Regions from separate parts of the Homo sapiens genome. Here region 1 is linked to region 2. The links come from fine-mapping of genetic effects on gene expression. A gene starts in region 2. The other region holds a variant in brackets. All regions are shown on one strand. Distances are between the middles of the regions.

Region 1 (5,371 bases), 52 kb before region 2:
AAGATTAAATGATACAGGGCATGTAGGATGCACAATAATTTAAATATGTATGTAGTTCCCATCTTACAGATGAGGAACTGGAGCTTGTTGAAACTTCCCTTGGCTCAGGATAATACCTCAGGTTAAAGAGAGAGCCTACAAGAAGAGAAAGAAAACTCGGGTGAGAACTGGATGGGTACAGGTGAGCCAGGCTCCACCTTTCTGTCCAGGAGCTCAAGGTGACATGGGCCACCCAGTGACCTTTCCTGCCTCTGCTGCCTCAATGCACAGACAGGTTGGTTGTGAAACACCCCTGGGCGGTGACTCAGCCTGGAGGCCTGCTCTGCTGGTCAGCGCGGGCAGGCTGGAGCTGTTTGGTTGAGCCTGGAAAGGACAACATGTCTAACAAACACATTGCTTGTCAAAGCTCTGACGGGGGTGCCAAGCACAGACTGTGAACTCTGGTCCTTGAGGCATCACAGATGACTGAAGTGGGGTGCCTAAGTTGCATGCAACATCTCCTGGTTGTTGTTCTGGTCTAACAACCTTCCAGGGCCAATGTCAGGAAGAGGGTAATGTTTTAGAGGCTGGGGAGCTCCTATTTCTCAAGAGGCAGCTTGGCACGGTGGCCAGGACCTGGGCTTTTGGCATCCATATCATGCAGACCTGAGTTCACATCCTGGCTCTGGCTTCTCACTGGCTATAAGACTTTGGGCAAGTGGCTTAATCCTTTCAGATTTAAACTTCCTTATTCTATAAAATGCCCACCTTTTTATTTTTATTTTATTTATTTTTTTGAGACAGGCTCTTGCTCTGTTGCTCAGGTTGGAGTGCAGTGGCGCTATCTTGGCTCACTACAGCCTCAACCTCCCAGGCACAAGCGATCATCCTACCTCAGTCCACCCCCTGAGTAGCTGGGACCACAGGCATGTGCCACCAAGCCTGGCTCATTTTTTAATTGAGATAGGATCTCCCTATGTTGCCCAAGCTGGTCTCAAACTTTTGGACTCAAGTGGTCCTCCTACCTCAGCCTTCTAAAGTGCTGGGATTACAGGTGAGAGCCACTGTGTCCAGCCAAAATTGTCTTTTAGAGATAAAAGATGTAAAATTCATGAAACATAGAAACTCTTCATAAACAATTATTAGAATCCTGCGCCCAAATCTGCCCCTTCCTTCACTCCAAATGGAAATTGCCCCTCCTGGCTGGGTGCGGTGGCTCATGCCTATAATCCCAGCATTTTGGGAGTCTGAGGCAGGCGGATCACCTGACATCAAGAGTTCAAGACCAGCCTGGTCAACATAGTGAAACCCTGTCTCTACTAAAAAAATACCAAAACTTAGCCAGGCGTAGTGGCGAGTGCCTGTAATCCCAGCTACTCGGGAGGCTGACAGGAGAATCGCTTGAACCCAGGAGGCGGAGGTTGCAGTGAGCCGAGATCACACCACCGCACTCCAGCCTGGGCAACAAGAGTGAAACTCCGTCTCAAAAAAAAAAAAAAAAAAGAAAAAAGAAAAGAAATAATAAATTGCCCTTCCTGCTCTCTTGCTATTGTAGTGTACTTTCTCATTCACCCAGAGGTAGTAAAAAAACCACCCATTCCAGGCCGGGCGCGATGGCTCATGCCTGTAATCCCAGCACTTTGGGAGGCCGAGGAAGGTGGATCATGAGGTCAGGAGATCGAGACCATCCTGGCTAACACGGTGAAACCCCGTCTCTACTAAAAATACAAAAACATAAGCCGGGTGCGGTGGCTTATGCCTGTAATCCCAGCACTTTGGGAGGCTGAGGCGGGTGGATCACGAGGTCAGGAGATCGAGACCATCCTGGCTAACACGGTGAAACCCTGTCTCTACTAAAAATACAAAAAATTAGCCGGGCGTGGTGGCAGGCGCCTGTAGTCCCAGCTATTTGGGGGGCTGAGGCAGGAGAATGGCATGAACCCGGGAGGCGGAGCTTGCAGTGAGCAGAGATCCTGCCACTGCACTCCAACCTGGGCGACAGAGCAAGATTCCGTCTCAAAAAAACAAAAACAAAAACAAAAAAACATTCCCAATGGTCTTGAGGTCTAATAACAACAACAACAAAAAGCAACCAGCACGCACTTATATATATATATTTATGGATAAGTACAAAAAATAAATCCTGTTTTGCATCCCAGAACTCATTGTTCAGTATGAGTTTGTTTTTTTTTTTTAATTGGCTGGGTATCGAGGCATGTGCCTGTAGTTGCAGCTGCTCAGGAAGGGGAGGCAGAGGCAGGAGGATCGAGCTCTGGAGTTGGAGGCTGTGCTGAGCTTTGATGGCACCACTGTACTCCAGCCTGGGCAACAAAGACAGACCCTGTCTCTTTTTTTGGGATGGAGTTTCAGGCTCTTGTTGCCCAGGCTGGAGTGCAATGGCGGGATCTCGGCTCACCGCAACCTCCGCCTCCCAGGTTGAAGCGATTCTCCCGCCTCAGCCTTCCAAGTAGCTGGGATTACAGGCATGTGCCACCACGCCCAGCTAATTTTGTATTTTTTGTAGAGATGGGATTTCTCCATGTTGGTCAGGCTGGTCTCAAACTCCCAACCTCAGGTGATCTGCCCGCCTCGGCCTCCCAAAGTGCTGGGATTACAGGCGTGAGCCACCATGCCCGGCCGACCCTGTCTCTTAATAAAAAAATGTTGATTCTAGGATTGTAGAATAGATAATTTAAAAGCATAGGATATGAGGGAAAACCTCAGCTATATTAATTTTGTATTTCAATTTCATGCTGACTTGATACATAAGATGGCTTTTTGTTTTAAAGGCTTTTATCTTGAGAACACGATATCTGGAGTTAAAGGTATTGGCATATTCCACACATCTGTACTTATTCTTGAGTGTGATTGCTTAGGAATGAATATGATTTAAACTCATTCATGTTTAGAGAGGGTGTCAAATTGAGAACCAGGAAGATCCACGTACGCTAAAAATGACCCTAAAGTAAGTTGGTTAAAAAATTAGATTCCAAACATTCTTGGTGAATTTTGAAGTCTTCTTCAGTGTACCCATATTATTATTATT[A/T]TTATTTTTTTTTTTAATTTTTTTTGAGATGGAGTTTTACTCTTGTCACCCAGGCTGGAGCACAATGGTGCAATCTCAGCTCACTGCAACCTCCGCCTCCCAGGTTTAGGCGATTCTTCAGCCTTGCCTGCTGAGTAGCTGGGATTATAGGCATGTGCCACCATGCCCAGCTAATTTTTTTTTCTTTTTTTGAGGCGGAGTCTCGCTCTGTCACCCAGACTGGAGCGCAGTGGCGCAATCTCAGCTGACTGCAACCTCCACCTCCCAGGTTCAAGTGATTCTCCTGCCTTAGCCTCCTGAGTAGCTGGGACTACAGACTCCCAACACCACACCCAGCTAATTTTTGTATTTTTAGTAGAGACGGGGTTTCACCATGTTGGCTAGACTGGTCTTGGACTCCTGACCTCAGGTGATCCGCCTGCCTTGGCCTCCCAAAGTGCTGGGATTACAGGCGTGAGCCACCACGCCCAGCCTAATTTTGTATTTTTAGTAGAGATGGGGTTTCACCATGTTAGCCAGGCTGGTCTCGAACTCCTGACCCCAGATAATCCACCCACCTCAGCCTCCCAAAGTGCTGGGATTACAGGCAGGAGCCACTGTGCCCAGCTACTATATCCACATTAAAAGGAGATGACAGAAGCCAAAATAAAAGAATTATGGGCTGACAGGACAACTAGATTAAAATATGCCTCAGTTCCATTAAAAAGGGCTAACTTGAAGATAAATTTTGACTCCAGCTCTTTAGAGGATCTATAGTGACCTTGGTGGACAGTGGGAAAAAATCACAACATGAAATTCCTTGAATAAAAATGTACTGACTTAAAAAAACAAAAAAAAGCAAAGCACAACTATCATAGACAGAAGCACCAGGCTGGTTGTATCACTGTTATCCTATTGATCACTTGATTCATTTCCTGGTGTTAGAAGAGAAAAGACATTTTGTTTATTTATTTATCTATTTATTCATTTATTGAGATGGAGTCTCACTCTGTCACCAGGCTGGAGTGTAGTGGCGCGATCTCAGCTCACTGCAACCTCCACCTCCCAGGTTCAAGCGATTCTCCTGCCTCAGCCTCCTGAGTAGCTGGGACTACAGGTGCCCACTACCATGCCCGGCTAATTTTTGTATTTTTAGTAGAGATGGGGTTTCACCATGTTGGCCAGGATGGTCTCAATCTCTTGACCTCATGATCCGCCCGCCTTGGCCTCCCAAAGTGCTGGGATTACAGGCGTGAGCCACTGTGCCCAGCCAAAAGACATTTTAAATCAAGGAGAGTGGTAGCCTGAATAATCCCTCTCAATGATGCTCAAGCCCTAATCTCTGGAACCTGTCAGTGTTACCTTATATATAACATAATTGCTTTGCAGAAGGGATTCAGTTAAGAATGTTGAGATAGGGAGATTATCCTGGATTATCCAGGTGGGCCCTAAATGTAATCATACATATCCTTATAAGAGGGAAGTAGAGAAGGATTTGACTGCAGAAGAGAAGGCAATGAGATGATGAAAGCAGAGATTGGAGTGATGCAAACTCAAGTTGAGGGATCCAACAGCCACCAGTCGCTGGAAGAGGCAAGGCATAGTTCTTCCCTGGAGTCTTTAGAAGCAACCAGCCCTGCCAATGCCTTGATTTCAGCCCCTTAAGACTTATTATACACTTCTGGCCTCCGGAACTGCAGGGGAGTATATTTCTGTTGTTTTAAGTCACTAAATTTGTGGTAATTTATTGCAACAGCTATAAGAAACTAATTCAAGGGATGTGGTTGAATCATTATTATTATTATTACTTTTTTCTCTTTTTTTGGAGACAGTCTCATTTTTGTTGCCCAGGCTGAAGTGCCGTGCACTGGTACAATCACAGCTCACTGCAAGCTCCACCTCCTGGGTTCAAGCAATTCTCGTGCCTTAGTTTCTGGAGTAGCTGGAATTACAGGCATGCACCACCATGCCCAGCTAATTTTTGTATTTGTAGTAGAGATGGGGTTTCGCCATGTTACCCAGGCTGGTCTTGAATTCCTGGCCTCACTTGATCTGCCTGCCTCAGCCTCCCAAAGTGCTGGCATTACAGGCATAAGCCTCTGCACTCAGAGTATTATTATACTTTTAGAGATAGAGTCTCAGTTTGTTGCCCAGGCTGGTGTGCAGTGGCAAGATCACTGTGTGAATTATTTATTTATTTATTTATTTTTTGAGACAGAGTCTCGCTGTGTCACCCAGGCTGGAGTGCAGTGGCGCGATCTCGGCTCACTGCAAGCTCTGCCTCCTGGGTTCACGCCATTCTCTTGCCTCAGCCTCCCAAGTAGCTGGGACTACAGGCATGTGCCACCACACCCGGTTAATTTTTTG
Region 2 (5,371 bases):
AGCCCTTGGAACTTTCTGAAGATACACACATCTGAAGGCAATGAGCTCCTGAAAGGGAGTGTGTGGTGAAGTGACAGGGAGTTAAGGGAGCTGCACGCCTGGGTCTTCTCTTGGACCTCGGGCACCTGACTCAAAGATCAGCACCCTGCTGTCTTCTAAGGATGCCACCACTCAAAGCAGAAACCGTCCGAAGGTCCTCTTTTCTCGAGAGAGGAATACACAGAAATCTCCCAGATAGGCCAGGTGCGGTGGCTCATGCCGGTAATCTCAGCACTTTGGGAGGCCAAGGCAGGTGGATCACCTGAGGTTAGGAGTTCAAGATCAGCCTGGCCAACATGCTGAAACTCTGTTTCTACTGAAAATACAAAAATTAGCTGGGCATGGTGGCGGGTGCCTGTAATCCCAACTACTAGGGAGGCTGAGGCAGGAGAATTGCTTGAACCTGGGAGATGGAGGTTGCAGTGAGCTGAGATCGTGCCACTGCACTCCAGCCTGGGCAACAGAGCAAGACTCCATCTCAAAAAAAAAAAAAAAAAAAGATAAGAAAAAGAAACCTCCCAGATAGCAGCAGTTTTCTCCACTGAGGAAACATGGCTTCTGTGTAAAGATCCCTCCCTCAAAGCCTTTTCTCCCTAGACCAGGCACTGACCCAGAGAGGGGTGTACAGTGTCTGATCTCAGGAACAGGCTCAGGCACCCCCTTGTGAGACACTCTGGAGAAAGCTGTGCGTGCCATGGCCACGTTCTGATAATAGCAAGCAAGTATCACGCAGTTACTATGTTCCAGTCACAGTGCTTCAGCTTTTGCTTGTATTCTGAGTTAATTCTCCCAACAATCCCTTAGAGATACTGTAAAATCCCCATGGGAAGAAACCACAGATCAGAGAAGTGATTACTGGCTAAGCCACACACTGCAAGTTAGCAGGAGGGCTGGGACATGAACCCAGCACTCTTGCTCTCTAGTGTTCAGGTGTTCTCAATAGTAACATTATTTCCATCTTTCCAAAGAAGTCACACAGCTGAGAAGCTGCAGGAGAAGAGCCATTCCTCCACATGGCGCTCCTAAATCACGGCAGAGAAGGGTAAGCAAGCTAACAAAAACCAGGGCACAAACTATACACCGACGGAGGTAGGATCCCCAGAAACCACGTTACTAAGAGAAAAGCAGGGATTTTCCTGGGGTCATAGCACTCCACCAAATCCCAGGTCCAGAATACAACTTCCACCACACTCTAGGCCTGTAAACTAAAGCAACTAGAAGCTCCTAGTGCCGTGCAATCTCCGAAATCATAAGGCCAAAGAACAAGATATTCAGTGGGGTTAATGAAGAAAGCCTCTTTCTGAGCCCATCGTGGGCCTCAATGTTCTTCCTGTAAAATGGGGCTATAGCGTAGCTTGTATTGCTGGTTTAGTCCTGAGGACTTAGGTTAAAGGCGAAAAAAACTCAGAGCCTGGTATCTAGTAGGTGCATAATAAATGATAAGATGTCCATTATCGCTGCTGCTGGTAGTGGTGGGGGAGTGCGAACTGTCAGTCTGGTTAGGTCCAGCCTAATTCCCGGTCTCCCTGCAAAGCCCCTGCGGGCTATGCCGGGATGCGAATGCGGGGGGGTGGAGGGGAGCGGCGCGAAGGGAGGGTGGGGGAGGAATTTCTGGAAAACAAACTTCTGGGCCTTCAGACCACTTACTTAGCAGGGCGCAGCCTAACCCGCGCTTGGCTTCGGAAGCCGCGACCAGGGTTGTCCCCTCTCCCCCCAGCTTTGGCTGCCGCCGCCGCGTACCGGGCGGCCCGCCAAGCCCCCAGAGCCCCTGCGCTCTCCCTCCAAAGCAGGAGTGCGGTGGACATAGGATGAGGTCGACTTTCACTGGCCAGTCCCAGGTGCCTACGCCCCGCGCTGGGGGACAGGAGCCGGGAGGCACCCCAGGAAGGGTCCTCTGCCCGCCGGCCCCCGCGAAGAGGAAGGGACTCCGCGGAAGGGGGCGGGGAGGAGGAGTGGTCTGGCCGCTCCGGCCGGGATTTGCCTGGACTTGAAGACGCTCAGGAGCCCAAAGCTCGGAGAGCCTCCAGAAGGCTTCTCCCTCATTGGCCAGGAGTCCGAGGGAGCCGAGGAAGGATCCGCGGCCCTGGGGTGGGGCGGTGAGGGAGAGGGGGAGAGGGAGGGAGGAGGGGGAGAGGGAGGGGGAGAAGGAGGGAGAGGGGAGACAGAGTGGGGGAGGGGTGCCGAGGGCCGCGGCTGCCAGTTGATGCAACCCGGGTCCCGGGTTACGCGCTCGGCTTTCCCTCCCCGAGCCCAGGACACACCGACTCAGCTCCGGACAGCCTGAGGCTCAGACGCGGTTCGGGGTTCCAGGGAAGAGGGGCGTCGCGCGGCCGCCGCTTACCTCTCCGGGGCCCGAGTCGCCGACGCCGCCCGGGGCGAACCGCAGGTAGTCCTTGAGCTCTGCGCGGCACTCGGAGTCCGCCACGATCATGGTGCGCGCCAGGACCCGGTCGCGGCTCGCCGACGACCCGTGCACCCGAGTGGGTTTCGGAGGGACGCCCGAATGAAGCCGGGACTGGGCGCCGCCGGGGAGCTTCTAGAACCCCGGGGCGTCTCTCGGGGCTCCAGAACGCTCCGGAATCCGAGAACGGCCGCTTTGGTGCTGGACTCTTCCCCCAGTCGGGCTTCGGGAACGGCGAACGGCCTCGGGGGCCTGGGAAGGGCCGCAGCGCAGGGGTTTTCACGGCCTCGGAAGTCCGCAGGGGCCAGGGCTGCTCCCGGACCCAGCGCTCCTCAGCATCCCCGCCGCGGAACTGCCAGCGCTCGCCGGGCTCTGACACCAGCAGTTCAGCCCGCTGCGGTCCCCGGGGGAGGGCGGGGACACAAAAGCCCGGCGGTCCAGCCAATCAGAGGTCTGTTTCCCCGGGGAGGCGGGGGAAACTCCGCCCCCTGGAGTCACGGGCTCCGCCAATCAGCACCGGGGAGCGCCCGGAATTCTGGGAGTTGTAGTCCGCCTCGGGTGAATGCTGCAAACTTTTGCAAGACGGTTTAGTCAGATCCCTGGCAACACCAGACGGCAGTGACAGCCCTAAGAGTCATTAGGGTTGCGTGATGAAAAGGGACTTCACTGGGCTAGGCCAAACAGCCGAGTGTGAAATCTCCTAAATGAATTCTTCATCTTTTCAGTTCCTGGAGGGACTGGCTAGGGTTAAGAGAGGTTTGGCTCGCGTCCTATCCGGTGCTGCTAATTATAGAACTGAACCCCAGATATTTAGAGGTCAGAGGGCACAACCCTGCTCCCCCTGGCCTCGGGGAAGCTCCAAAGATGCGAGACACAGGGAATTCACCTTATTTGTGGAGCCTCAGGAAAAGCCTTCATTCCTTGAAATGTCATTGGTAACTTCGTGTGGAACCTCAATCCCTATTGCTGGAAGTTTTCTTCCTTCTGCTACCCGTCCTGGCTTCCACCCCTCCCACCCTCCTCGAAACTTTGTAACAAGGTGTTCTGCTGGATCTTTGCTCACCTCTCCCTCTGGCCTTCTCTGACTCCTCTTTCACCACCCACTTCCTAAAACGTGGGTGCTTCCCCAGTTTGTTTTTGCCCCTCTTCCCTCCAGACACTCTCCCTGATCTCATTCACTTCCTGGCCTTCAACTCGCCTCTTGCCAGAAAGTTGCCTCTACCAACACCTCAGCACCTCCAAGCTAAATTCATTTTCTATTCATTTCAAACGGAGCCTCTTCCTTCACAGTTTTCCTTCAGAGCTCCTTTTTTTGTTTCCATTTTAAAGTTATTGTTTATTCTAGACAGGGAATCCTGCCAGGGGTGAGGGTGGATAAGACCCCCAAGTCCCCCTCTGAGACTTCTAAGTCTAAGCTTACAATTCCAAAGATGAAACCGACTTGGTTTCCTGCCTCCAGATTCTTGGGAAAAAGAGATTAATCTCACCCTCCCCTGAGCTCCCAAGGCACTTGAGCTGGATCTCTTTTCACATGTATCACATTCTACCTAGTTTTTTTTGTTTTTTGTTTTTTTGTTTTCTGTTTTTTTGTTTTTGTTTTTTGTTTTTTAGTAAATAGAGACAGGGTCTCAATATGTTGCCCAGGCTGGTCTCAAACTCCTGAGCTCAAGCGATTCTCTCACCTCAGCCTCCCAAAGTGCTAGGATTATAGGCATGAGCCACCATGTCCAGCCACATTCTGCCTTGTATTGTAATTTTCTATGTACATGTTTTATCTGACCCTTTTTTCTTTTTATTAGTATTGTTTTTTAGAGATGGGGTCTAGCTCTGTCACCCAGACTGGAGTACAGTGGCATGATCATAGCACGCTGCAGCTTCAAATTCCTGGGCTCAAGCGATATTCCCTCCTCAGCCCCCCAAATCAATCACTGGGGTTACAGGTGTGCACCACTGAGTCTGGCTTATCTGATCTTTTTAATTGTAAACTCCTTGAGGGCAGGGTCAACATCTTTTTTTTTTTTTTTTTTTTTTTTTTAAACAGAGTCGCACTCTGTCTCCCAGGCTGGAGTGCAGTGGCCCGATCTTGGCTCACTGCAACCTCTGCCTCCCAGGTTCAAGCAATTCTCCTGCCTCAGCCTCCTGAGTAGCTGGGATTACAGGCAAGTGCCACCACACCCGGCTAATTTTTGTATTTTTAGTGGAGACAGGGTTTCACCATGTTGATCAGGCTGGTCTCGAACTCCTGACCTTGTGCTCTGCCCGCCTCAGCCTCCCAAAGTGCTGGCATTATAGGCATGAGCCACCGCGCCTGGCTGGCAGGGTCTACATCTTGACATCCATCTCCTGCTCTATGTCACCTAGCAAAATGTCCTGACAATCATATGCCCTTGGTCACGGAATCTTCCTTTGCATCAACTTCCTCTCTAAACTACCCTGTGTCAGCTTCAGCTTTCATTTAAAAAATTTACTATGTGGCCAGGCGTGGTGGCTCACGCCTGTAATCCCAGCACTTTGGGAGGCCGAGGTGGGCGGATCACGAGGTCAGATCAAGACCATCCTGGCTAACATGGTGAAACCCCGTCTCTACTAAAAATACAAAAAATTAGCCAGGCGTGGTGGCGGGTGCCTGTAGTCCCAGCTACTTGGGAGGCTGAGGCAGGAGAATGGCGTGAACCCAGGAGGCAGAGCTTGCAGTGAGCCGAGATCGTGCCACTGCACTCTAGCCTGGGTGACAGAGTGAGATTCTGTCTCAAAAAAAAAAAAAAATTTACTATGTAATGTCAAAGTCCAGATCAAAAGGCTTCACTGGTATTTCATCAGCTACAGAATTAAGATCAAACTCCTTGGGTGGGCATGGTGGCTCACGCCTGTGATCCCAGCACTTTGGGAGGCAAAGGCAGGCAGATCACCTGAGGTCAGGAGTTCAAGATC

Alleles and levels. Positions count from the first base shown, and alleles are read on the strand shown. Sizes are in standard deviations (SD) of each study's normalised expression.
With allele A in place of T in region 1, the expression in neutrophils of the gene that starts at base 2,800 in region 2 is higher (large effect, 1.0 SD a copy in BLUEPRINT).

Evidence for each region. PIP is the estimated chance that this variant, and not a neighbour inherited with it, causes the effect. A credible set is the group of variants that fine-mapping cannot tell apart.
Region 1: its variant is the best candidate, but not a certain one, in a credible set for the expression of SESN2 in neutrophils (BLUEPRINT, PIP 0.59).

The regions. Positions count from the first base shown.
Region 1 is chr1:28,309,110-28,314,480 of GRCh38, reverse strand. No RefSeq gene overlaps it. Among named protein-coding and RNA genes, the nearest start is that of MED18, 17 kb to the left of the region's middle. RefSeq lists an enhancer at 344-844. The variant A/T (reference allele first, on the strand shown) is at 3,026.
Region 2 is chr1:28,256,947-28,262,317 of GRCh38, reverse strand. SESN2 (sestrin 2) reads right to left here and starts at 2,800. Exons shown (of 10, transcript NM_031459.5): 1 at 2,381-2,800. The coding sequence starts at 2,470. RefSeq lists silencers at 1,890-1,949, 2,730-2,939 and enhancers at 2,209-3,057, 3,050-3,229.